Linked DNA regions of Homo sapiens. The protein of the gene in region 2 interacts with the protein of the main gene of each other region in a pairwise test. Each region holds a gene or a part of one and is shown on either strand. Other genes may lie near its edges.

Region 1 (7,649 bases), about 100 Mb from region 2:
AGGATTCCCGGAGGGGGTGCTGGCGGGCCGCGGCTCAGAGGCGCGTTTGCGTCAGCCCCGGGTTCCAGCAGAGTCACTGCCCGCCCGGGGGCAGCTCGTCCGCCGCGGGGCCTCAGTTTCCCCGTCTGCGCAATGGGGGCGGGGCGGGGCCGCCAGGTGGGGCGGGGCCGGGGGCGGGGCGGGGCGGGGCTCGGGGCCCCCACGGCGCGGGCTCGGGCGGCAGTGGCGGCGGCGCGTGCGCGCCCCGGATCCGGCGGTGAGTGCGGAGCGAGCGGGGCGCGCCGGGGTCGGGGTCCGGTCGCCGCCCGGGCTGGGTCGAGGGCGGGACCCGCGGAGCCCCCGGGGGCGGGGAACCTGGCCGCGCGCGGAGCTGGGGGCGGCTCCGGGACGAGGCAGCGCGACCGCTGGGGCCGGGGGCGGAGCGGGCCGGGGCGCCCGCGGCTGGGTCGGGCCGGGCCGGGAGAATGGGCCCAGCGGCCCCGGGAACCGGCTCCCCCTGCCGGCGGCGGGCGGGCGGGCGGCGCGGCGGGGAGGGCCGGGGTCGCCGCGGCCCCTCGTCCGACCCGGCGCGACTCAGCGCCTCGGGGCCCAGCCTGTGCCGCCTGCTCCGCCCCCCGCGAACCCCGGAGCCAGCAGCGCGGCTGGGAGGGGGCGGCGGGCAGGTCCGTCTCGCTCCGCCTCTGCGCCCTCCCTCGTGGGCCCCGCGGTCCCCAGCCCTGCTCCCGCCGCGAGGGGTCCGCCAGTGCCTGCGGCGCAGCCAGGCCCCTCCCTCTGCGGACCCGGCCTCTCGCGGGTGGGGGCTGCGGGGCTGCTGCCGGGCAGGTGGGGAGGGAGCCCGTGGGCGCTGGGGGCACGGGGACCGGACTGCTGGTCCACCTGGCGCCGCCGCCCCCTCCCCGCCCGGCACCCCTGGGTCGAGGCCGTGGCCCCCCCCGGGGAAATGGGGCTTGCAGCACCGGCTCGGAGAGCACCACGGGCTTCCTCTGGCCTCGGGAAAACATGACTTTCAAAAATTGAGTCTCCACTTAGCACCGCTTCCTGTCCAGGCGACTCTCAGGAATTGTGGGGGGGAGCTGTGCCAATATGTGTGGGGGGCAATGAGGTCTGGGAGATTCGCCTACCCCCAGGCCCGCCCTGGCATCCCCCTGCCCACATCAAGCCGCCGGGCCGCTGCCCTACCTCTTCCTTCCCGGGTCCCACTCCCCAATGTCCCCCGACTTCGAGTCTTGCCTTGAGGTCGCACCAGACCCAGCCCCTAACAGTGTCCTTCATCCAGGGCCCATCCCCAGAGTTAATCTCCAGCCAGCTCTGCCCCCTCGACAAACTCCTGCCCAAAAACTGCTGTGATGCCCCCCCTGCCCCCAAGCTAAGTCCCCACCCCTCAGCTGCCCAGGGCAGCCTCTGCCTAGTTGGCAGCCTCTGCCCTGCCCTCCTCTCTCCAGCGCACAGAGGACTGGAGGCCCAGGAAGGACCCCCAGCCACCCTCCCCGCTGGGACCGGGTGATGCCTTGGCAGTGCCCGTGGGAAGCAGGTGTGGGATCGTGCTCCACACCCAGTGGGGCTGGCCAGCAGCGACTGAGGACAGTGTGACTATTTATAGGACTGGCTGTCAGAGCTGAGGAGGGGCCTCAGAGACCCTATTCTAGTGTGTGAGGAAACTGAATCCCAGAGAAGGGACAGCCTTACCCCAGCCTCTGCCCCGACCCGAAGCCTGGCCTTTCCCTGCGGAGGGCCCTGCAGTGCCTCGGAAGGAACCCACCCAGCCTTTGGGAAGCACCCGTGAGAGGCCCTGGGTGGGACCCTGCAGCATGGCAGGGGCTCGCCAGGTCTCCAGACCCCTGGCTGCGCATAGGACAGAATCCCCATCCCCGGCATTGCCACAGACCATTAATTCTGGGCTCTCATGCTCTCAGGAAGCCTCACCCGGGCCCCTGGCTCCTGCTGCACAGCCAGGAGGGGGTTGGATTCCGGTTCCGGTGACACTGTCGGGGGCTGCTCCTCACCCCCAGGTGTGCACCTGGCACAGCCACTGTCCCAGGATCCCTGGAGGCTGATTGCACACATATCCCAGCCTGGGAAGGACCCCCTCTAAAATGAAGGCCGCCCCTCTGGTGGTCTTAGAATGTGTGCACCCTCCGCACGGTTCCTGCTGGCTTGCAGCTGCTGGCCCACCTGCTGGGGCCGGTTCCACACTCAGATGAGAAATCAAATTCCAGAAGGGCTGAGGCCGGCAGGTCCCTGGTGGGGCTGGATCCCAGCTCTGCCCACGAACACCCCGTTTGCATAGACTGGGGTGCAAACTCACCCCTGCCCTGCTGTGAGGAGGGCCCTGGAACCAGGCAGGACAGGAGAAACGGCCACCCGTAGCTGGAGCCATCCTTCCCGGAGCCTCGGGCAGATGCCCAGCAGGATCCACTCGATTCCTGCACCAAGAGCTCTGGACAGCGTCACCCCCCCTGTGCCCCCAGGCTGTGGCCCCAGCTGTTTGTGCCTGGCGAGGGTCTGGCTAGCTGGAAGAGGGGGCCAGCGGAGGAGAGAGTGGGCGCCACCGTGGGGCTGTCCCACCGGTGGAGGCTCCAGCGGAGATGAGCTGGGCAGGCCTCGCGGAGCAAGTGCAAACTGCACCCGCGTCCTGGGGGCATCTGCGGGGAGACTTAGGGGTCATGCTTTGTGCCCCAGGCCACCCAGAGGAGAAGGCCACCCCGCCTGGAGGCACAGGCCATGAGGGGCTCTCAGGAGGTGCTGCTGATGTGGCTTCTGGTGTTGGCAGTGGGCGGCACAGAGCACGCCTACCGGCCCGGGTGAGCCAAGCCCTAGCCTGGGAGTGCTGGGGTGGGGGGACCGGGAGCCCTCAGCACCTCCTAGAGGCGGCCCTCAGCACCTGTCGGGGACTCCCTGGGGGCTCCTGCTGAGGGTCCTGCCCCGGCCACATGTTCCCATCATTCTTGGGTCCTGCTCTGGGACTCCTGGGCTGACCCCCTCTCCACCCCCGCAGCCGTAGGGTGTGTGCTGTCCGGGCTCACGGGGACCCTGTCTCCGAGTCGTTCGTGCAGCGTGTGTACCAGCCCTTCCTCACCACCTGCGACGGGCACCGGGCCTGCAGCACCTACCGGTGAGTGCCCCACCACACCGAGCTCACCCAGCCCCAGCCTCCCAAGTCGGCCACACATCAGCATGTCAGGGGCGAGGCGGGGGTGAATCCTGGGACCCAAGATGGGAAACTGAGGCCAGAGCCATGAGAGGGCTGCCTGAGATGGGCGACCCAGGGCGGCCGGAGCCAAGGGGTTCCACGATCACCTCCAGTGTCCTAATCCTTGCTCTTGCCCCGACACGTCTCAAAGGACCGCACCTCTAAGAGCATCCCCATGTTTAGAGGGGTCACCCATCCTGTCTGCACCCCTCCACTTCCGGGGGACTAACCCCTCCCTACCCTGGCATCCCTGGCTGCAAGTTCCCATATACACAGAATGGTGCCTGACTCCCCTGGTCCCACTCCACTGGGCACCCCCCTCCACATGACGGCCCCCAGTGGGCACAGATGAGACCCTGAAATGTCCTGTATGCCCACACAAGGGGCACACACCCCTAAGTCTCAGAGTCCTCCTTCCTGGGTGTGGGAGCTCCACCCCCTGCTGGGGGAGGGGCCTGGGAATTCAGACTTCTGGAGGTTTAAGAAGGGCTCCGATGCCCAGGGCCCACACTCTGCCGTGACTCGCCGTAGGCCGGGCACACCCTCTCCTCTGGGCCTGGATGCCCCCACAGTAGGAGACCAGATAGGTGGGGGCACACACAGGCCTGGCCACTGCCTCTGCTCCATGCGGAGTGTGGCTGGGCCTTCCTGCTGTGGCTTGAGTCCCGGCCAGCACCGGAAGGCCCAGGCAGGGAAACGGCTGTGCAGTGACCCCTCAGTGCCATCCCTTGAGGAGAAGACCCTTGGGGGCATGCTGGGGTGACCCTGTGCACTCTGAGAGGGGACTCTAGATGCCCAGCAGGTGACTAAGGGGGAGTAGGATGCCCCTCTGAGCTGTCCCACCCACCCCACAGAACCATCTATAGGACCGCCTACCGCCGCAGCCCTGGGCTGGCCCCTGCCAGGCCTCGCTACGCGTGCTGCCCCGGCTGGAAGAGGACCAGCGGGCTTCCTGGGGCCTGTGGAGCAGGTGAGGGCTATGTCCCTCGGCGCCCGGTGTTAGGAGGGCGACTGTTCCCCAATCTTCCAGCAACGCTCCTGCTGCTTTTCTTGAACCCCGAGCAAAGCACCACCTTGCCGCAGAGCACCCACTCCCTAGCAGCTGCCCCCACAGGGTGCTGGGGACCCAACTGAGCTGGTGACCAGCCTCCCCCGCCCACAGCAATATGCCAGCCGCCATGCCGGAACGGAGGGAGCTGTGTCCAGCCTGGCCGCTGCCGCTGCCCTGCAGGATGGCGGGGTGACACTTGCCAGTCAGGTGAGGCTGGCTCTACCCTGGGGGGCCCTGGAAGGGTCCTGGGCACCTCCTTGCATGTCCTGGGGTTACTGCTGGCCCATGAGTGGGTGGTTGTGAAGGGAGCTGTGTGGGCAGGACCCCTCCCGCAGGCATGGCCGCCTGACACCCCGTTTCCTGCAGATGTGGATGAATGCAGTGCTAGGAGGGGCGGCTGTCCCCAGCGCTGCGTCAACACCGCCGGCAGTTACTGGTGCCAGTGTTGGGAGGGGCACAGCCTGTCTGCAGACGGTACACTCTGTGTGCCCAAGGGAGGGCCCCCCAGGGTGGCCCCCAACCCGACAGGTAAACAGCCCTGGCTGTGCCTGGCCTGGGGAGGCGGGCAGGCAGTGGACATTGCCGTGTGGCTGTTAGGCATGGTGGGGGGCACTGGAATCTGGGCGGAAGGCGGTGGGGACTCCCTCTCCAGGGAGGGAGGATGGGGAGGGAGGATAGGTGGGTTCCCGAGAACTGGGGGCAGGTTGCCCGGAGCCTCATATCAGCCAAGAAGGCAGAAGTGCCCCGTCCCGGGGTCCTGTCTGCATCCAGCGCAGCATTCTGGAAGACGCCACGCCTCCGCTGGCGACGGGACATTATTACTTTTGGTACGCGCTGTGACACTTCAAACTCGTACCGTGAGTAATAATGCGCCGTCCACGGCACCGCATCGAAAACGCCGCTGAGACCTCAGCCTTGACCTCCCTCAGCGTGGCCGGGACCCTGAGCCTCTGCGCAGAGCCACCCGCCCCGACGTACTTAGGCGGCATAGCCCTGAGACCTCTGGCCAGCGCCAGGCAGGCAGCGGGGGCGGCAGAGGCCTGGGCCTGAGTCTTCTGGCTCTGCCTCTCCCTGGGGACAGGAGGGAGCCTGGGGGTGTGGGTGGGGAGCCGGCCGGCCGTGACCCAGCGCCTGGCTCTGCCCGCAGGAGTGGACAGTGCAATGAAGGAAGAAGTGCAGAGGCTGCAGTCCAGGGTGGACCTGCTGGAGGAGGTGAGGCATTGGTGGGGGGGGGGGGGGGCAGGCAGTCCAGGGTGGACCTGCTGGAGGAGGTGAGGTGTGGAGGGGCAGGCAGTCCAGGGTGAACCTGCTGGAGGAGGTGAGGCATCGGGGGGGTAGGCAGGCAGTCCAGGGTGGACCTGCTGGAGGAGGTGAGGCGTCGGGGGGGCAGGCAGTCCAGGGTGGACCTGCTGGAGGAGGTGAGGCGTCGGGGGGGCAGGCAGTCCAGGGTGGACCTGCTGGAGGAGATGAGGCGTCGGGGGGGGAGGCAGGCAGTCCAGGGTGGACCTGCTGGAGGAGGTGAGACGTCGGCAGGGGGCAGGTCTTCACAACAGCAGAGGCCCAGGCCCGGGTACAGGCTCCGTAGTCTCCTGGGACATGGTCCCGACCCACGGATGGCTGGGGGTGGTCTGAAAAGGTCCTGGCCCTGGGGAGGTGGCTTCCTCGCTGCTGACTGCCGAGGGGGCCCTGGCCTGGATCCATGCTGGGCAGAAGCAGCTGGACACTGACCAGGACCCCCCAGGGCCGGAGGAACCAAGCTTGACAGCCCCCCAGACAATACACAGAGCCTGGACCCAGACGAGACCTCCCCACCCCCCCATCTTTGTCCCCACCAGGACAAAGAGCTCTTGCCAGTCTTCCCACTGGCCAGTGGTCCAGCTGTCCCCCTAGTTCTCCTGCCAGGGACCCCAAGGCTGGGACCACCCCGCCAGCCTGATGCCCCAGGCACCCACTCTGCGGCAAGCTTTTCTGCCACGGCAGCCCCCTCTAGTGGACACTTGGAGCCCTGCCGCGGAGGCGGGGGCTGGAGGCTTGTGGAGCCCTTCCCAGGGGTCCTCCCTAGACCCCGGTGGAGCAGAGAGGGCGGGGGCCGGCCCAGGGTCACTGCCCTTCTGCACCCACAGAAGCTGCAGCTGGTGCTGGCCCCACTGCACAGCCTGGCCTCGCAGGCACTGGAGCATGGGCTCCCGGACCCCGGCAGCCTCCTGGTGCACTCCTTCCAGCAGCTCGGCCGCATCGACTCCCTGAGCGAGCAGATTTCCTTCCTGGAGGAGCAGCTGGGGTCCTGTGAGTGCCCCCACCCTCCAGAGCCCTCCTCCCGGGTCTGGGCCCAGTGGGCCTAGAGGGGCTACCCAGGCTTGGGGGTCGGGGGCGACCAAAGGCCAAGGGGCCAGTCAGATCTAGCTGGGCGGGGAGGCTGTGGGGAGCAGTGATCTCTGACCTTCGCCTCATCCAACCCTAGGCTCCTGCAAGAAAGACTCGTGACTGCCCAGCGCCCCAGGCTGGACTGAGCCCCTCACGCCGCCCTGCAGCCCCCATGCCCCTGCCCAACATGCTGGGGGTCCAGAAACCACCTCGGGGTGACTGAGCGGAAGGCCAGGCAGGGCCTTCCTCCTCTTCCTCCTCCCCTTCCTCGGGAGGCTCCCCAGACCCTGGCATGGGATGGGCTGGGATCTTCTCTGTGAATCCACCCCTGGCTACCCCCACCCTGGCTACCCCAACGGCATCCCAAGGCCAGGTGGGCCCTCAGCTGAGGGAAGGTACGAGCTCCCTGCTGGAGCCTGGGACCCATGGCACAGGCCAGGCAGCCCGGAGGCTGGGTGGGGCCTCAGTGGGGGCTGCTGCCTGACCCCCAGCACAATAAAAATGAAACGTGAGCTGCTGTGTCAGTGGATGGACTGGGGGCCTGGGAGGAGGGCGCTCACCTCCTGGCCACCCCTCCCAGACCCACTGCTGGGTGCCAGCTGGCAAAGGGGGCCTGGTGGAGCGGGCAGTCGTGGGGTGGGGAGGGGGTCCAAGGCAGAGGGGGTGGGCAGGTGGTTTCTGTGAGGCCACAGAGAGCTTTGTCCTGGGGACATGTTGGCCCCAACCAGAGGCCAAAGAGCAAATCTCTGGCCTCCTTCCCAGTAGCCTGAGGATCCCGGCACACTTGCCCGTTAGGCGACACCCCCACCCATCGATGGAAGTAGTATAGGGTGATGTGGGTCCACTCCTGGATAGGGAACACGGGTGGGTGGCGGTGCCTGCACCCTGGGCCTCTAGGCAGGGCAGCTGGGAAGACACAGCGTCGCCTCCACCGCCCTGGTCACCTGCCCGCCCTGTGAGTGACCACAGCTCCCCAGCCACTTCCAAGAGTGTGTTTATAAAAAAACAGCAACGGAGTACAGTGCTGACCCCACAGAGTCTTCC
Region 2 (8,495 bases):
CAGACCCCCTGGCCCAGCACACACTGTCCATCTTTCTGCACCAAGGCTTTCTCTAACACTGAAGCAAGAGCCTACTCAGCCACGCAGGCACAGCACCCAGGGGCAACCTGCAACCGAGGCAAGGCAGGAGCCGGCAGATCCACAGGACAATTCTGGATGCTGTTCTGCAGGCTTCTTAGGAGGTGCTAGTGGAGTTCAGCCCCCTTTGCCCTCAAGTCAACTTCAATAATGTTAATATATCCTTAATGGCTTTCTTCCTGCTCTGTTTCATTCTTCCCACTCACCCTCCTGCTTCTTGTGGTCACCTCCAAAAAACCATACCTGTACCTAAATCCTTGTCTCAGGCTCTGCTCTGAGGAATACCCAAGATAAGTCTTTTAAAATGTATCACACACTACCTGCTTCCTGAAGCAGAAAATATGAAATAATGATTTTGCCTTTTTTGATGCTGCCATGTCTAAAAATCTGTGATTCAATAATTATAAATATCAGTGACTGTCTTTTGTTATGGCGTTTAGCAGTTACAAAGGAGTAAAGGGTATTGTGCCTGAGAAGGCTCTGCTTTTAAGGGTTGTCTTGCCATCTGTCACTTCTTGGGCACTTATTCCTCAACCCCTAGCCCTCTGATTTACAGCTTAGTCACTGCTCTGAGCCAGGAAATGGTATCCAAGTTTGCTAAAACTGTGTCTGGAACTAAAAGAGGATGAGCATGAGCTAAAGTACATGAGCTTAGGCTGGGTGTGGTGGCTCACCCCTGTAATCCCAGCACTTTGGGAGGCTGAGGCGGGCAGATCACCTGAAGCCAGAAGTTCAAGACCAGCCTGACCAACGTGGTGAAACCTTGTCTCTACTAAAAATACAGAAATTAGCCGGGTGTGGTGGCACATTCCTGTAATCTCAGCCATTTGGGAGGCTGAGGCAGGGGAATCACTTGAATCTGGGAGGCAGTGAGCTGAGATTGTGCGACTGCACTCCAGCCTGGGTGACAGAGTGAGACTCACTCTTTAAATAAATAAATAAATAAGTACATGAGCTTAAAGGGATAGTGGTGTAATGTAGAGTTTAAGCACATACAAGTTTTGAAGTTAGACATATCTGTATCAGATGCTGGCTTAACCGCTTATTAGCTAAGTCTGTTTCCTCATTTAAAAATCAAGTTATACACTTAAAATATATACAACAAAAATAAAATAGAGTAAAAAAACAAAAGTAACAAATTGGGATGTCATAAAAAAATGACAGAGCAGGGAACTCCAAAGGTCCATTCTGCCACTAAAGTGAGGAAAAAACTGGTAAAAATGTCAGAATCAACCTTTTTGGAACTCTGGAAACTAACCAAAGTTTGCAACAAACAGAGGAATGCTTAATTTAAAAAAGAAAAACAAAAACCAGGGCCAGGTGCAGTGGGTCATGCCTGTAATCCCAGCACTTTGGGAGACCAAGGCAGGAGGATCCCTCGAGCCCAGCAGTTTAAGACCAGCCTGGGCAACATGGTGAGACCCTGTCTAAAAACAAAACAAAACCAGCTGAATCTTGATAAGAGAACTTTCTGGTGTTGTAACCTACCCTGGTCCCATCACCCACTCTCCAGCTTGGTGGTGACCTTGAACAACAGTCCACACTCCCAGTACTGGTGTACAGAAACAGTACTGGATACCAGTACCTGACGGGGCAGGACGAACTTATTTTCAAAAAATTGTGGTTGTTTGTTTTGACCTGCCTGTCACCTCCCTGGAGGACCACCTCAAAGGGCCTGCTTTCATCTTAACTAACTAGGAACTATCCTAGTGCTGAGGGGGTTACATGAAGGATGTTTATCAAAAACATTTCGGCCGGGCGCGGTGGCTCACGCCTGTAATCCCAGCACTTTGGGAGGCCGAGGCGGGCGGATCACGAGGTCAGGAGATCGAGACCATCCCGGCTAAAACGGTGAAACCCCGTCTCTACTAAAAAATACAAAAAATTAGCCGGGCGTAGTGGCGGGCGCCTGTAGTCCCAGCTACTTGGGAGGCTGAGGCAGGAGAATGGCGTGAACCCAGGAGGCGGAGCTTGCAGTGAGCCGAGATCCCGCCACTGCACTCCAGCCTGGGCGACAGAGCGAGACTCCGTCTCAAAAAAAAAAAAAAAAACATTTCAAGGTAAAATGTATTAGTCTGTGCTGTCTAGGGCAAAGGATAACAGCTGGGGCATCCAACACACTAACCAAAAAGACTGGGAGGAAAAGCTGGGAAATGAGAAGCTCTGGGAAATAAGAGCTTTGAATAGCTCTGACAAGTTCCTGGAATTTAGAAGGCCACAGGCATGTCTAAGGCTGGGCACATGCTCAGAAAAGGCCACATGTGGCTCACCTTCAGGCTCTAGTCATGCAGGAAGTGAAGGCTAAGGCAGAGTTGTAACCACCTGACCATGTTGAAGACATGCTCCAATATACATTCTAGCTCCTGAACCAACCTCCCCCTACCCCTCTTACCTGTGCCTGTGATAAGTGTAACAAAGTTTTCCAGTCCCTTTCCTTGGCCAAATTTCCTTTCCGCCAGGGCAGCACAGTTGCCATCATTGTCTACCCACACAGGGAGATGCAAAGTGTCAGAAAGGGGGGTCCTAAGGTCCACAGAGTTCCACTCTTGGATCAGTTTGGTTGAATGCAGCACAATTCCTTCCCGAGGATTTACACGGCCACCTGTGGAAATGCCTGCGCTCCACCACAAACACAAGGAAATAATGCTGATGAGCAATCTCAGGAAAGTATGCTGACTTTCTTGTCTTAAGAACACAGATTCATTCACCCCAGATCTCCTAAGACAAACGTTACCAAGGACTGCAAGGAAATATTAGACAGTTGTGAATTAAAGCCATAGCACCTTAAAGATTTCTAGAACTGTCAGTGCTTCTCTCCTAATGCTTGTTGGTGTCCCAGGAAGTCCCCATGCTTGGGGCCCACAGACAGCACCTAGAGCCATCTATGCACAGGGCAGACACTGACTTGATGCTCAGGCATGCATCACAAGTTAGTAAATTTTGTACATTAAAATGAGCATTTCTTGGATTTATAATTTACAATCTTACCTACTCCCAAAATTCTGCAGTTCAGTTTTACAGCTTCTGCTGCAGCTTCCACACACATCTGTAGGATTAAATTAATCCTCTCTTCATAGGTTTTAGGATTGAACTGAGTATACTTCTTAACTATTTCACCCTAAAAGAGAAAACAACAAGTTCCGTCTTACTGGTCTTAGCTAAGCAGCATATTGTGAGTGTTGTGATCTTTTTCATGACAAATTAGACACTGCTATAGGATGGCCCCGCAGTCTTAGATGACTGCTTGGGGAAGGACCCACTGCCTGGTCTGGGCCAGCCCTGGGGTAAGCTCAAGTAGTTCCTGTAATCTGTCCTAATATGGGGCTGTTGAAGCAATGACAACTCCACAGGCAGCAAGATGGGCCCCTCTCTTTTTTTTTTTTTTGAGATGGCCTCTCGCTCTGTTGCCCAGGCTGGAGCGCTATGGCGCGATCTCAGCTCACTGCAACCTCCACCTCCCAGGTTCAGGCGATTCTCCTTCCTCAGCTTCCCAGGTAGCTGGGATTACAGGTGCCTGCCACCACGCCCGGCTAATTTTTGTATTTTTAGTAGAGATGGGGTTTCACCATGCTGCCCAGGCTGGTCTCAAACTCCTGACCTCAAGCAATCCGCCTGCCTCGGCCTCCCAAAGTGCTGGGATTACAGGCGTGAGCCACTGCCCCCGGCCGGGCCCCTTTCTTAAGCTTAAGTTCAATGTTCGCTAATTTGAGCCTAGTTCATTAAAAGACCATAGTTTACTCTTTCAGGTTGACAAAACTTTCTTGCTTACTGAGGTGACCGGGCATAGTGGCTCACGCCTGTAATCCCGGCACTTTGGGAGGCCAAGGCGGGAGAATCGCTTGGGCCCAGGAGTTTAAAACCAGCCTGGGAGGTACAGTGAGACCTCCTCTCTACAAAAAATTAGCCAGGCATGTTGGCACATGCCTGTAGTCCCAACTACTTGGGAGGCTAAGCTGGGAGGATTTCTTGAGCCTGGGAAGTTCAGGCTGCGGTGAGCTGAGATCACGCCACTGCACTCCAGCCTGGGCAACAGAGTGAGACCCTTTCTCAAAAACAAAAACAAAAAAACACTGAGGCAACTAAGTAGCTGAGCTTTAATCATCTCCTGTAACTGAATTCAGTGATGGTCTGGATACTCTATTTCCTTAGGGTAAATTTCCATCCTGGCTGGCAGAAATACCACATTGTTTAAATTATTATATGGCCGGCCGTGGTGGCTCACGCCTGTAATCCCAGCACTTTGAGAGGCCGAGGCAGGTAGATCACTTTGACCTCAGGAGTTCAAGACCAGCCTGCGCAATAAGAGGAAATCCCATCTCTATAAAAAATACAAAAATTAGCTGGGCGTGGTGGCACACGCCTGTAGTCTCAGCTACTTGAGAGGCTGAGGCTGGAGAATCGCTTGAACCCAGGAAGCAGAGGTTGCAGTAAGCCGAGATCATACCACTGCACTCCAGTCTGGGCGACAGAGTGAAACCCTGTCTCAAAAAAATAAAACACATTACTGTGCTTTTTGATATGTTTTAATACCAAACAGGGATAGTCCCTCCTGATTACTTGTCTTTATCTTTTTTCTTTGCACAACTGACTTTTGTACTTTTAATGTTAAACTTTGAGAAATTCCACTGTGATTTACAATAATTTTACTAAATGTAAAACAAATACCATTGAAATATTTACTAGATTATGTTGATCTTATAAATCAAATTGGGAAAACACTGACATCTTAAAAATAATCAGCACTTCCATCCAGGGCATTTTTTTCAAGACTTTATGTCTTACAGTAAAGTTTTAGAATTTTCTTTATATAGATTACATCGTTCCTGGTTTCAGTTATTCTTAGGAGTTTTTGTTGTTGTTCTGAATAAGATCTCTCTTTCCATTTATATTATTTTGTTATTAGTGGATTTTTATATCTCAAATATAGGGTTAGAGCTGTCACTAGGATTGTCATTAAAAATAAATCTAGGTCAGGCACGGTCGCTCACACCTGTAATCCCAGCACTTTGGGAGGTCGAGGCTGGCAGATCCCTTGAGCCCAGGAGTTCAAGACCAGCCTGGGCAACATGGTGAACCACTGTCTCTACAAAAAATACAAAAATTAGCCAGGCATGCTGGCATAAGCCTGTAGTCCCATCTACTCAGGAGGCTGAAGCACAAAAATCACTTGAGCCCGGGAGGCAGAGGTTGCAGTGAGCCGAGATCACGCCACTGCACTCCAGCCTGGGCGACAGAGCAAGACTCAGTCTCAAAAAACAAAAATACATCTAGAGCTGGGCACAGTGGCATGTGCCTGTGGTCCTAGCTATTATACTTGGGAGGCTGAGGCAGAGGACCATTTAAGCCCAGGACCTTGAGTCCAGTCTGGGAAACATAGGAAGACCTTGTCTCTAAAAAAAAATTTTTTTAAATTAAGAGAATAAAAAATCTAGAGTAGTGCTTCTCAATCTTCGCTGTGCATCAGAATCACCTGGACAGCTTTTAACGAAGAGCGATGCCTGGCCCCCATCCCCAGAGACTCTAATTTAACCAGTCCAGGGTGGGAGCCAAGCATTTTTTTGTCTATTAATAATGTTTTTTGTTTTACCCTATCAATAATCTCCATTTTTGCTATTCCTTCCTTTATTCCCTCATAACTTCCAAAATTATGTGAGATAATGCTGCACAAAACATCTTTCTTTTCTTCTTGATTTCAATGGGAATGCCTCTAGAATTTCACCATTGAAAAAGATGTTGGCCTTTCATATGGAATAAATCATCTTTCTGTTAAGAAACTATTCTTCTATTAGTTTTTGTTTTGTTTTTTGAGATGGAGTCTCACTCTGTTGCCCAGGCTGGAGTGCAGTGGTGCGATCTTGGCTCACTGTAATCTCCACCTCCTGGGTTCAAGCGATTCTCCTGCCTCAGCCTCCCAAGTAGCTGGGATTACAGGTGCCTGCCACCATGCCCAGCTAATTTTTTTTTTTTTTTTGTATTTTTAGTAGAAACAGGGTTTCACCATGTTGTCCAAGCTGGTCTGAAACTCCTGACCTTAAGTGATCTGCCCACCTGGACTTCCCAAAGTGCTGGGATTACAGGCGTAAGCCACTGCATCCAGCCTTCTATTAGTTTTTAAAAGAGTATTTATAAGGGAGGCCTCTTGGCTTTTCTTGAGAAAATTATGTTTTGTTTTGCTTTCCTTATTTGACCTAATGGTATTAATAAATTTCCTACAACTTTACATTTAAAATCTTTGCTATTTCTCATCGTCTCTGGAAGCTTTATACACTCACACTATTTCAAACCAAGATTTTTCTAGTAGGTTTATTCTAAGTCATTAGAGATCACTTTAACATGAACAGTTTGTTATTTTTATGAATGTTCTCTCACCTGTCAACACTGGGTGATGGTTTGGTTAACAGATTGAAGGTATGCTGTACTCAATAAAGAGCAGAACTGTAAAAATGCAAAATGGAAAATCCACACAACTGATCACATTCTAGAGAAGAGGCAGCTCCCTTCACCATTTGCTGATACCCCTCACCTGGGCAGTGATAGTAATCAGCATACTCCACACTCCAAGCTGTTACCAAGTATAGAATTTCAGGTCTTTTGGGTGGCAAAAGCCCGATCTGATGCCTAAAGGGGTCTTCCCACTGTCAAGTCTACCGTCTTGGATTCCCAAAGAATTTACTTCTTTGAAATGTTAATGATCAGTAAAATAGTGAGACAAACATTGTAAAGGATCCACAAGTCAATACTATCAGCAAATGATTACAAGCTCTTGTGTATGTTTCTAGTCTTACCTTCCAACTATATATACTTAAAAAAAAAATCAATCGCTCATATGGGATATAAAGTTAGGAGTTTAGGAGTTATTTTACCTTCATGCTGACTATTGCAACTCGGAGGTTCGTCCCGCCAAGATCAACGGCCAAGGCACTTAGAGTTTCAAGAATATGGTCAATATCTTGAGAGATATTCTCCTTCACAGGAGGAAAGCAGAATTTCTTTTGCAGTGGCTCTTGAAGATCGATAGATTTGAGAAACTTCAAAATCCTTGGAACAGCATTTCCATCCCCATATATCTTTGAACTGCAATATACAAAAAGTCAATTAAATTATATGCTTCTGCCATACATGTTAAGTGGTAGTGAGGGTATAATGTAATGGAAACTGAGACTTCAGGTAAAAATAATTCATGCTTCTTCCTAAAGTGACATCTTCCTGCCGTGCACAGTGGCTCACACCTGTAATCCCAGCACTTTGGGGGGCTGAGGCAGGAAGATTGCTTGAGCCCAAGAGTTTGAGACCAGCCTGGGCAACACAGACATAGCAACTCTATCTCTACAAAAAGTAATTTTAAAAATCATGTTTAAAGAAATAAATAGGCTGGGTGCAGTGGCTCATACCTGTAATCCTAGCACTTTGGGAGGTCGAGGCTGGCGGATCACCTGAAGTCAGGAGTTCAAGATCAGCCTGGCCAACACGGTGAAACCCCATCTCTACTAAAAACACAAAAATTAGCCAGGCGTTGTGGGTGCCTGTAATCCCAGCTACTCAGGAGGTTGAGGCAGGAGAACTGCTTGAACCCGGGAAGCGGAGGTTGCAGTGAGTCGAGATCGCACCACTGCACTCCAGCCTGGATGACAGAGCAAGACTCCGTCTCAAAAAAAAAAAAAAAAAAACAACCAACAATAACAAAAAAGAAATAAAATAACATCTCCACAAGATATACATACTTCAGAACATCATGTTGTACACAATAAATACATACAATTTTATCTGTCAATTAAAAGTTAAAAACTATAAATCATAATTATACAGAACTAAAAAAATTTTATATAAAATAATATCTAGATCTCTTCAGCAACATTGTAACTAAGTGCCTGTATTTTTTTGCTTTTTTTAGTTTTTATCTTTATATTTCTGAGAAAACAAAATTATTTTCAGAAAGAAATATTCAAATACAGGGAAATCTCATCGATTTGAAACAGAAAGGAGGGTGGTCAAAATTAATTAAAAAGCTGAACTAGACTTTTTAAAAAAAATCAGTTACATTATTTTCTAATATTTATAGAAAGCCAAAGAAGGTTAAATAAGTGTAGCAAAAGTGTTGTATTAATTAAGAGAAACAAATAAAATAAGGCTGGGCGCAGTGACTCACACCTGTAATCCCAGCGCTTTGGGAGGCTGAGGCAGGCGGATCACCTGAGGTCAGGAGTTTTGAGACCAGCTTGCCCAACATGGTGAAACCCCATCTCTACTAAAAATACAAAAATTAGCCAGGCGTGGTGGTGCGCACCTGTAATCCCAGCTACTTGGGAGGCTGAGACAGGAGAATTGCTTGAACCCAGGAGGCGGAGGTTGCAGTGAGCTGAGATGGCGCCACTGCACTCTATCCTGGGCAACAGATCAAGAGTCCATCTCAAAAAAAA
Region 3 (10,031 bases), on a different chromosome or scaffold from region 2:
CCCTTTCCAGGGAGCCTTTCTTGCCTTTCCCATCAGACTAGCTGCAATTGCACATTGTCCCAGAAAGGACACTGTCAGCAGTCATTGCATGCCTCAGTATCTGACAGTATGTATGAAAAGTAGCCCTCTTTAGACTTCTGGCCTTTCTCATGAATTTGGATATGCTCTACCAGACTGGGAGCTCCAGAACCCATGTTTCCTTCCTCCTCTTAATGCCTCCTTCCCTCCAAAATTAAGACAGGATTGAGCATAGAGCTAGGAAATATCAGTCACAAAATCCCCGAGTCCCCCATCTGGAAAATGTTGTCTAGTCTAAGCGATCAACTATCTTGAGGAGTCTGCCTTATAATACCCTCCAGGGAGCAGAATGAACCGAAGGGAGCACTGAACAAGAACTTTCTAATGTTAAAACCACCTAATTTGCCCATTCTTTACAAGTGCCCCTTGAAATAAAGGTCCACTTGGGCTAAAAGAAGAGATTCTGATCTCCAGATCTGAAGGTCTTTTGGTTCACCTTGTCTCCACAAAAATGGTGGCCACTGCAGAATAAGAAGTGTCTTTCTTTTACTTAAAGCCTCCCTAAATGGAAGAGATAATGCAAGCTCCTTTAGAAAGTAATGACTACTTGTCTTCTGGCAAGTTCTTCCTCAACTCCAACTTCCATTTGTCCATCTGCAATGAAAGCTTGCCTTCTCTTGCTCTCATTGGAGCACCATTATACTTGGATGAATTATCAAGTCCATATCCCCCATCCTCAACCTCATGAAATCCTCTGGCTACTGACCAATCAGGAGGTTTTAGGATCAGGCAAAAATAAAGATGAGTGAGTGTGCCATCATTTAATTTATGACTGAGGATTTCTGATGGTCTGTTAAGTCCAAATAATAAATACACACTTATGAATTATTCACAGATTACAGAATTTTTAGATTATCCAAGCCTCTCTTCTCATCCAGTAGTATGGTTACCCAAGGATTGGTGGTGTGTTCCTTTGCCAAAGAGAAGAGATTCTCTTTGGACCTTCTCTGAGGCAATCAGGCTGGAGCAGAGATTGAAGGAGGGGCATGTGTTTTGGGGTTCTTTTCGAGGACAAATGGAGTAACCATGGCCAAACTTCTCAGATCCTCTGCCCCTTGGACTGGCTCCCACTGTAGAATATAGTAGATAACATTTATTGAGCATTTTCTATGTGCCAGCTGCTGTTAAACATTGTCCATGCATTATTTCATTTAATCCTTCTACAAGTTCTTTAAGATAAGGCGGTTAATGAAAACTGGACACAGATGGCTTAGGCATGTGGATGAGTATATCCCATCAATGCTGTTGATACGTCTGCAGCAGCAGCATCAGCAGCAACAACAACAACAACTAATATGATTACACACTTAGAGTGTGCCAGGCTTAGTTCTCAGTGATTTACATGGATTAACTCTTTTAATCTTTACAACTTTATGAGGTGGGTACTATTATTATCTTCATTTTAGAAATCATGAAATGAGGTACATAGAGGCTAAGTAATTGCCTGAGTTTACACAGCTAGAGAGTGGCAGAGCTAGAATTCGAAACGAGGCAGTTTGGAATCTGAGTCTGTGTGCTTAACTAATATGCCATGTATTCAAACTTTTTATTTATTTATTTATTTATTTTAATGTTTTCTTTTTATGGGTACATAATAGTTATACATGTTTATGGGCTACATAAGATATTTTGAGATAAGCATAAACTGTGTACTGATCAAATCAGAGTACTTGGAATATCCATCACCTCAAACATTTATTATTTCTTTGTGTTGGGATCATTCCAAGCCTACTCCTTTAGTTATTTTGAAATACACAATAAATGATTAACTATAGTCATTCTATTGTGCTACTGAACACTAGATCTCATTTCTGTTATCTAACTGTATTTTTGTACTCATTAACACGTCTTTATCTTCCCCTCCCCATTACCCTTCCCAGCCTCTGGTAACCATCATTCTACTCTCTATCTGATGAGATCAATTTTTTTAGCTCTCGCATATGTGTAAGAACATCTGAAATTTGTCTTTCTGTACCTCAATTATTTTCCCTAACATAATGTCCTCCAGTTCCATCCATGTTGTTGCAAATGACAGGATTTCATTCCTTTTTATGGCTGAATAATATTCCATTGTGTATCTGTAACATACTTTCTTTATTCATCCATTGATGGACACTTAGTTTGATTCCAAATCTTGGCTATTGTGAATAGCGCTGCAATAAACGTGGGAGTGCAGACATCTCTTTGATATAAGAATTTTCTTTCTTTTGGATGTATACCTAGTAGTGGGATTGCTGGATCACCTGGTGGTTCTATTTTTAGCTTTTGGAGGACACTCCATACTGTTTTCCATAGTGGCTGTAGTAACTTACATCCCACTAGCAGTGTACAAGTGTTCCCCTTTCTCCACATCCTTGCCAGCATCCATAATTTTTTTGTCTTTTTGATAAAAGTCATTTTAATTGGGTTGAGATGATAATCTTATTGTGGTATTGATTTGTATTTCTTTGATGATATGTTGAGCATTTTCAATATACCTGTTGGTCATGTATATGTCTTCTTTTGAGAAATGTCTATTCAGATCTTTTGCCCATTTTAAAATCAGATTATTTGGTTTACTTGCTATTGAGTTGTTTGAGTTCCTTATATATTGCAGCTACGAATTCCTTGTCAGTTGAATAGTTTGCAAATATTTCTTCCATTCTGTAGGTCATTTCTTCAACTTGTTGATTGTTTCCTTTGGTGTGCAGAAGTTCTTTTAGCTCGATGTGATCCCATTTGCCCATTTTTTGCTTTGGTTGCCTTTGGTTTTGAGGTCTCAATCAAGAAATCTTTGTCCAGGTCAATGCCCTAAGCATTTCCTCAATGTTTTCTTCTAGTAGTTTCATAGTCTGAGGTCTTATATTTAAGTCTTTAATCCATTTTAATTTGGTTTTTGTATACAGTGAGAAATAGATATTTCAACTTTTCTGCTGCAACTATAATAAGAAATAATTTTACATGGTGACTGAGTATGCACATACATATACATAGGCCATACAACTGAAACAAAAAGGGCATGTAACAAGTTATTCCCATGACATAAGGTGCAATCTGCTATTTTCTGGTCTATTCTACTCTATTTGATTTTCTCATAATCAATTTCATTAAAATAAAATTCTGGTTGGTTCAATTAGTGGGTCAGAACATGAATTCTGAATAAACACTGCCCCTGAGCCCACCGCTTCCTAATGATTGTAATGAAGCCCATCTGCTCTGTGCTCTGGAGTCCACTGAGCATGTACACATTTCTGTAACTCTAAGGCAGTAGTAGGAGGGAAAGCCTTAACCTATTTCCCAGGAGAGTCAAGTGCCTTCCCCTAGATCACACAGGGGTACTCAGGGCAGAGCCTTGGTTCCTACCCAGCCTTTGTGAGTTTAAGACCCACACTATTCACACTGGATGGATGGCACATACAAATATAGATCTGTTCTCTGGCACCTGCCAAGGGTACTGACAAACTTCTGTGCAGGAGTTTCAAGGAGTATAGTGCAGAAAGCAGCAGGGACTCAGGGGATGATGGCAGGGGCTGGATGCTCTCCTCATGTGGCTCTATTTGATCTCATATTCTGAGCCAGATACTGTATAGATGCATAACAGTGGTGCTCATCCCAGACCTTCTAGGCCCTGGAGGTTACACAGAGGCCTGAGAGGACATCCAGACATTCAATCCTTGTCTAGGGCCTTGTGGGAGGTAATTGTGCTTTCCTGGGGCCAGTGGGCTAGTGTGTGCTCCTGAGGCCGCATGGGACACTCTGAGGGAGGGAATGCCTCCTCTCAGCCGAGGCTGGCCAATATGACCTAATAAGGTGGCCTGAGGACTAGTCTACATGCTAGTTGAATGTGCAGGTGAGGACCTGTGAGTGTGTGTGTGTGTGTGAGATGGTGGGTAGAAAGGCCAGCATGTGAAAGCATTGTGTGTGTGAGTGTGTATGTGAAAGAGAGAGGGGGGGTTGTGAGTAGGAAGGCCAGCATGTGAGTGCATTGTGTGTGAGTTTGTGTGTGTATGTGTGTGTGCACCAGAGAGTGGGAGAGAGAGAGAGAAAAAAACATGTTGATAGGTATAGATAAGGGATTTGGGAGTAGGTGTGGAGGAACTGGGTCCCTGAGAAGGTGACTAAGTTAGAGATTCTGTAAACGTGGGTCTTTTGGGGTGCAGAAACAGGTCATCTAGTTCGGAGAAACCACCAAGCGCCCCCCAAGTTCCACATCAAGGGATTCCCCCTCCCAACATTCCTGGCTAGTCCTATGAGCACCGCGGACAGCGGCATTGACCATGTCAAACCCCGCAGGACAGAAAGAGCAGCAGCCCCGCCCCTTCCCTTCCATTCCAACCTGAGTCACTGCCCACTCCTTCGTCCAACGTCAGTTTCCTCAACTGTGTATTGGGAGGTTGAGGTGGGTGTGCGGGACGTGAGTTGGTCCTTTGAAGAAGAAAACTGCAGTTTAGGGCAAGAGATCATAACATCTGGCTGCTTCTGGGCACCAATTAAGTACATTAAGTGGGGAGCGACAGCAGCTAAACAACCCAAGCCCATAAAGCCTTCTAATTGCTCCGACCCACGTGGTCACAGTCTCCCCACTTATATAAAAGGCCTACAGAGGTGCAAGTAGTGAACGCCTGACGCCCCGACCACTGTGCTCTCCATTCGGACGTCTCCATCCTCAGAACCTCCTCTCTTCCCCAAAAAGCACCATGACTTGTGGATCTTACTGTGGTGGCCGCGCCTTCAGCTGCATCTCGGCCTGCGGGCCCCGGCCCGGCCGCTGCTGCATCACCGCCGCCCCCTACCGTGGCATCTCCTGCTACCGCGGCCTCACCGGGGGCTTCGGCAGCCACAGCGTGTGCGGAGGCTTTCGGGCCGGCTCCTGCGGACGCAGCTTCGGCTACCGCTCCGGGGGCGTGTGCGGGCCCAGTCCCCCATGCATCACCACCGTGTCGGTCAACGAGAGCCTCCTCACGCCCCTCAACCTGGAGATCGACCCCAACGCGCAGTGCGTGAAGCAGGAGGAGAAGGAGCAGATCAAGTCCCTCAACAGCAGGTTCGCGGCCTTCATCGACAAGGTGGGTGTCCTGGATCACACCCTTCCTGAACCCCCACCACCTACACAGCCAGGGCCGGGCACTAAGGATGGAGTCAGAGGCACAAAGACCTCTGCCTGCCTGAGATCCCAGTCTGATGGGCGAGGCACACAGACACACAGACAGACAGACACATGCACAGACACACACACACAGGCACTCAAGATGCAGACTCAGCTGACAGTTCAGATAGAGGGAGCTTGTGAAGGAAAAGTGTGGCCAGGCTGCTCTGGGGCACAAGCTAGACATCAGGGAGTTGGGGGAGGGGGGCATGTGACCACTGCTGCTGAACTCAGAGGGGTTTGGGCAGCCCCAGGGTGAGAGAGTAGGGTGCACTGACTTCCAGATGACACAGGGGAAGGGCTGGGACAGCTGAGCTCCCTTCCAGATGGCCTGTGACACCCTCTTCCTGGCACCATCCCCAGAAACCTCATCTGTGATCTGAACCTGAGTACTCTGCCTGTGTGGGTTGCTGATCACCTAGTTTCATAGTGAGGGACTGAGCCTCTACTTCTGTTCATCTGCTTGGGTGGGGGGTGGGGGGGGGGTCACTCAACTCCCCAGGGAGCAGGCACTGACACCACCCAGCCCTTGCTCCACTCCTGAGTGGGAAATCTAGACACAGATCATGACCAGGAAATCCAGAAATTGTCTGTCTCCCACTGCCCACCTCTACTCAATCTCAGATAAGCTCCAGATTTGGGGGTTCCCATTAAAGCACCTCCCCTGCGAGCCCCCAGAGCTGGCTTTGGGGCACCAGACACCATCTGCCCCACCTTCCCACACCGAATGGCAGGTGCGCTTCCTGGAGCAGCAGAACAAACTGCTGGAGACAAAGCTGCAGTTCTACCAGAACCGCGAGTGTTGCCAGAGCAACCTGGAGCCCCTGTTTGAGGGCTACATCGAGACTCTGCGGCGGGAGGCCGAGTGCGTGGAGGCCGACAGCGGGAGGCTGGCCTCAGAGCTTAACCACGTGCAGGAGGTGCTGGAGGGCTACAAGAAGAAGTGAGTGCGGGCAAGAGGGATGCTGGGCACAGGAATGGGGTTTAGGTTAAATACACTGGATTAGACAATAAGAACTCCCAGGTAGGGTGAGTGGCCATGACCACTAGATTGACCGAGGGTGGCGGGGTCTTTTCCTTTGTGGAATCTTTGCCCAGACACCTGTGTAAGAGGAGGGCTGTGACTCCCATGACCTGTCTCTGTCCCACTTCAGCCTTCTCTCCCTGAACCACATCACCCAGCAGCTCTCCCCTGCGCTGGGTGGGGAGGAAGCCTCTGCAGGGTCCAGGCCTTCTCTCCTGACCCTCAGCCCCTATACTTGTAGCACCTGTCAGATGTGAGCCCAGGGTCTCTCATGAGTGACAGGTCTTGGGCTCTGGGTGTCGCACTGCCTTAGGTTCTAAGTCCTGAGGGTCTGCGGGTCCAGGAGGCCCCATACCTGAGCTGGGATTGATACCAGTGAGGGGAGGCTAGGGCTACAGGCCCTGAGAGTCCACGCTGTCCACTCCCAGGATGGGGCTGGGGGCTGAGTCCTATTTGCCTCCTGGGGGACCTCAGAGCCCCTTTGGGAACAGGACTGGGAGGTCCCAGATGAGCACTCTCCATCCCCAGTTCAAAGTGGATAGAGAATCCCAGACACATCCCACATCCAACTAGAAAGCACTAAGCTAGGCTGCCAGGCCGGGGCTGTGTGGAGGTGTTTCTAGTACTGTCCCCATGGCTGTGATGAAGTGTGATGTGATGGTGGCTCTGCAGAGACCTGCCCTGCCCTGACCTCCCCTCTCTTCCCTCTGCTCTGTCTCAGGTATGAGGAGGAGGTTTCTCTGAGAGCAACAGCTGAGAACGAGTTTGTGGCTCTGAAGAAGGCAAGTGACACAGGATTGAGAAGCACAGATCTGTGGGATCTCAGAATGACAGATTCTTCCTGGGGACACACAGGGGGTCTCAACCTCAGCGTGGGGCACAATGACCTTTCCACAGCAGGCTAGGACTGCCCAGATGCAGGCCTTTGTATTGAGCATCCAGGGCCTTGACAAAGGGCAATGACTTGGGAATATCTACCAGCACCTACCTTGGGCAAGGGGATGGCTGCACTGTCCTCTGTGTGTCCTGCTCTGTTCCAGAGGTTGTGGTCTATTGCTGAGGCCCCTGGAGCCATAGCAGATACAATGTCTCTGCTGAGAGACAGTGCAGTCTGTCTAGCATTTTGGGGAGTCTGACCTTGAGGCAGAGACACAATCCCAGGTTCTAAGGGGGGATGGAGAAGAACCAGGAGTAGCCCTTGGGCTTTTGGAGCACTGCTGGGGGACAGGAAAGGGTCAGGGTGTGAGAGCTGGGGGGTCAGTCTGGGCAGGCTTCCTGGAGCAGGAGAGGGGAGAAAGGAGAGATAAGAGGGTAAGGAGCAGTGAAAGGCTGGTGAGCCGTGCCCAAGACAAACAGGGTTTGTCCTCAGAATGGCAGAGGATGCCAGGTCACCCCGGGAAGGGCCAGAAGGGAAGGAGAGGGCATGGGAATGAGACACTGGGGACTCCTTTCCCCAGGCTTCATGGAATGGGTGGGAAGAGAGAGGAATCTAGAGGCTGGATCACCAGGGTCCTTGAGCTCCAACACTCCCCACCTTTCCAGGATGTGGACTGCGCCTACCTCCGCAAATCAGACCTGGAGGCCAATGTGGAGGCCCTGATCCAGGAGATCGACTTCCTGAGGCGGCTGTATGAGGAGGTGCGGGCTCAGGGGCCAGGCAGAGACCTGGCAGCCAGCAGAGAGGAGAGATGGGGGTGGGAGTGTTGGACAGGATGTGGGTAGAGGTTGCAGTCCCTGAGGCTGTGTGAGGGGGCAGGGTTGGGGACCAGAGAAAGCCTGAGGAGGTGGAGTCAGGACATGGTGGGTGGGGCTGTGTTCTCAACTAAAGTCACTGCCCTCACCTCCTGCAGGAGATCCGCGTTCTCCAGTCCCACATCTCAGACACCTCCGTGGTTGTCAAGCTGGACAACAGCCGGGACCTGAACATGGACTGCATCATTGCCGAGATCAAGGCACAGTACGATGACATTGTCACCCGTAGCCGGGCTGAGGCCGAGTCCTGGTACCGCAGCAAGGTGAGTGGCACAGGACACCTGCCTGCTAGACATGGCAGTGGGAGGGATTTGAGATTATCTATTAAATAGGCTTCCTTTTCTGGGGATGCACTAGGGATGAGAAGAGATGGCTGCCACTCTGATGTTGGGGTGGTAGGGCAGGACTGCCATGTGTGGTTGCACAGGCTGAGCACTGCACAACCTGCAAAATCATCTGTCATGCCCTGAATGGGTGGGAGGTCCCACCCTGAACCTCATGAGCATCTCTACTTCCCCCAGTGTGAGGAGATGAAGGCCACGGTGATCAGGCACGGGGAGACCCTGCGCCGCACCAAGGAGGAGATCAACGAGCTGAACCGCATGATCCAGAGGCTGACGGCTGAGGTGGAGAATGCCAAGTGCCAGGTATGGGGCATCTGTGCCCAAGGTCAGAGAGACCGAGGGTCTAACCATGGTCACACAGCCTATGTGTGCCCTATCTGGATCTCAGCATTCATTCTCCAGCCCCTCTGTCCATGTAGAGTCCCTGGTTGTGGTCTCTGTGAGTCCCAGGTGATGAAGGCAAGAGGCTCTGTTCTGGGGTGCTCCCAGCTTGGTGGGGAGCATGGTCTCATCGAGGTAAGCATCAGAGAGACCCAGGGACTCTAATCTACCTTGTTCTCTCTGTTCTCTTCAGAATTCCAAGCTGGAGGCTGCGGTGGCTCAGTCTGAGCAGCAGGGTGAGGCGGCCCTCAGCGATGCCCGCTGCAAGTTGGCCGAGCTGGAGGGTGCCCTGCAGAAGGCCAAGCAGGACATGGCCTGCCTGATCAGGGAGTACCAGGAGGTGATGAACTCCAAGCTGGGCCTGGACATCGAGATCGCCACCTACAGGCGCCTGCTGGAGGGCGAGGAGCAGAGGTGGGTCCCATAGACCTTTCCCTTTCCCAGCCCTGCCAGGGTTCTCAGTGTGCTCTGTCCTCACACTCCTGGCAGCATTTAAGTTTTGTTTCTTAACCTCCCCACCCTGCAACCAGACAGGTAATTTGTGTAAGTCCTTTAAGTATGATCTAGCCCCGTTTGAGTCTCTCATGTTCACCCAGGCACTGATCTGAGATTGCAGTCTTGTTCATCTCAGTTGAGATCCAGTAATCTGGCAGCAGGTATTCCTGTTACTGAGAAGCCTAATTAAGGCTTGGGGTCAGCTTGCCTGGGTAGTGCTTCTTCCCTTCCAGCTGTAGCTGCATGTGCTTCTCAGGATTCCTTCTCTTTTTCCTAGTCTGGCCCTGGCCCCATCTAGACCTGGGAGTTCAGATGTATCCCATAAGGACAGCTTCAGATAGATGACACTATCAACTCATGCTTTTCTATTATAGTGCCAATGAGCATCCCAAAGTGGTATTCCATTGTGGCAGGTGGGAATGAGTTAGGCAGAGAGCAAGGACTTATCCCTTGGGGCAGTTATGCCTTGCTTTCAGGATTTTTGCTTGTTTGCTTGCTTCAGAGGTGGGGGGAGTGGAGAAGACCCATTGGTCACTCAGCCTTCCTATGGCTGGAGGCCAGCGATACAGCTGGAGGGCAGCTATACAGCTCCTGCTCCCAGAAGGACAACACTCCCAGAATGTGAGCTCATTCTTTGCCCTTGGTTTCTTTCCCCTAGTTGGTCAGTTGGTCTCACTCGAAGCTCCTTTTTTTTTGTGGACAGTCAGGCCCTTGGCCCTGGGGAGAGGAGGGTGAAGGTTGGGGATGCAGAGGGAGCATCTTGTTTATTTGGGAAATGGGGAACACAGGTTTGGGACCTAGAAACTAAAGTGACCATATGACGAGATTTCCA

Evidence for each region.
Region 1: the proteins of GNE (region 2) and EGFL7 interact in binary tests that used the Homo sapiens proteins (3 or more experiments, as listed by UniProt).
Region 3: the proteins of GNE (region 2) and KRT86 interact in binary tests that used the Homo sapiens proteins (3 or more experiments, as listed by UniProt).

What each region holds. Positions count from the first base shown.
Region 1 is NC_000009.12:136,665,562-136,673,210, forward strand, and holds the end of EGFL7 (epidermal growth factor-like protein 7 precursor), read left to right. Parts: intron 1-206; exon of another isoform or gene 207-256; intron 257-2,679; 5' UTR 2,680-2,721; coding exon 2,722-2,801; intron 2,802-2,995; coding exon 2,996-3,112; intron 3,113-4,044; coding exon 4,045-4,160; intron 4,161-4,352; coding exon 4,353-4,448; intron 4,449-4,607; coding exon 4,608-4,769; intron 4,770-5,040; exon of another isoform or gene 5,041-5,125; intron 5,126-5,388; coding exon 5,389-5,453; intron 5,454-6,364; coding exon 6,365-6,527; intron 6,528-6,702; coding exon 6,703-6,725; 3' UTR 6,726-7,117; downstream 7,118-7,649. UniProt on the Homo sapiens protein: Regulates vascular tubulogenesis in vivo. Inhibits platelet-derived growth factor (PDGF)-BB-induced smooth muscle cell migration and promotes endothelial cell adhesion to the extracellular matrix and angiogenesis.
Region 2 is NC_000009.12:36,220,307-36,228,801, forward strand, and holds part of GNE (bifunctional UDP-N-acetylglucosamine 2-epimerase/N-acetylmannosamine kinase), read right to left. Parts: intron 7,153-8,495; coding exon 6,942-7,152; intron 3,197-6,941; coding exon 3,067-3,196; intron 2,693-3,066; coding exon 2,471-2,692; intron 1-2,470. UniProt on the Homo sapiens protein: Bifunctional enzyme that possesses both UDP-N-acetylglucosamine 2-epimerase and N-acetylmannosamine kinase activities, and serves as the initiator of the biosynthetic pathway leading to the production of N-acetylneuraminic acid (NeuAc), a critical precursor in the synthesis of sialic acids.
Region 3 is NC_000012.12:52,297,163-52,307,193, forward strand, and holds part of KRT86 (keratin, type II cuticular Hb6), read left to right. Parts: intron 1-4,652; coding exon of another isoform or gene 4,653-4,754; coding exon 4,755-5,123; intron 5,124-5,937; coding exon 5,938-6,146; intron 6,147-6,948; coding exon 6,949-7,009; intron 7,010-7,769; coding exon 7,770-7,865; intron 7,866-8,077; coding exon 8,078-8,242; intron 8,243-8,500; coding exon 8,501-8,626; intron 8,627-8,897; coding exon 8,898-9,118; intron 9,119-10,031.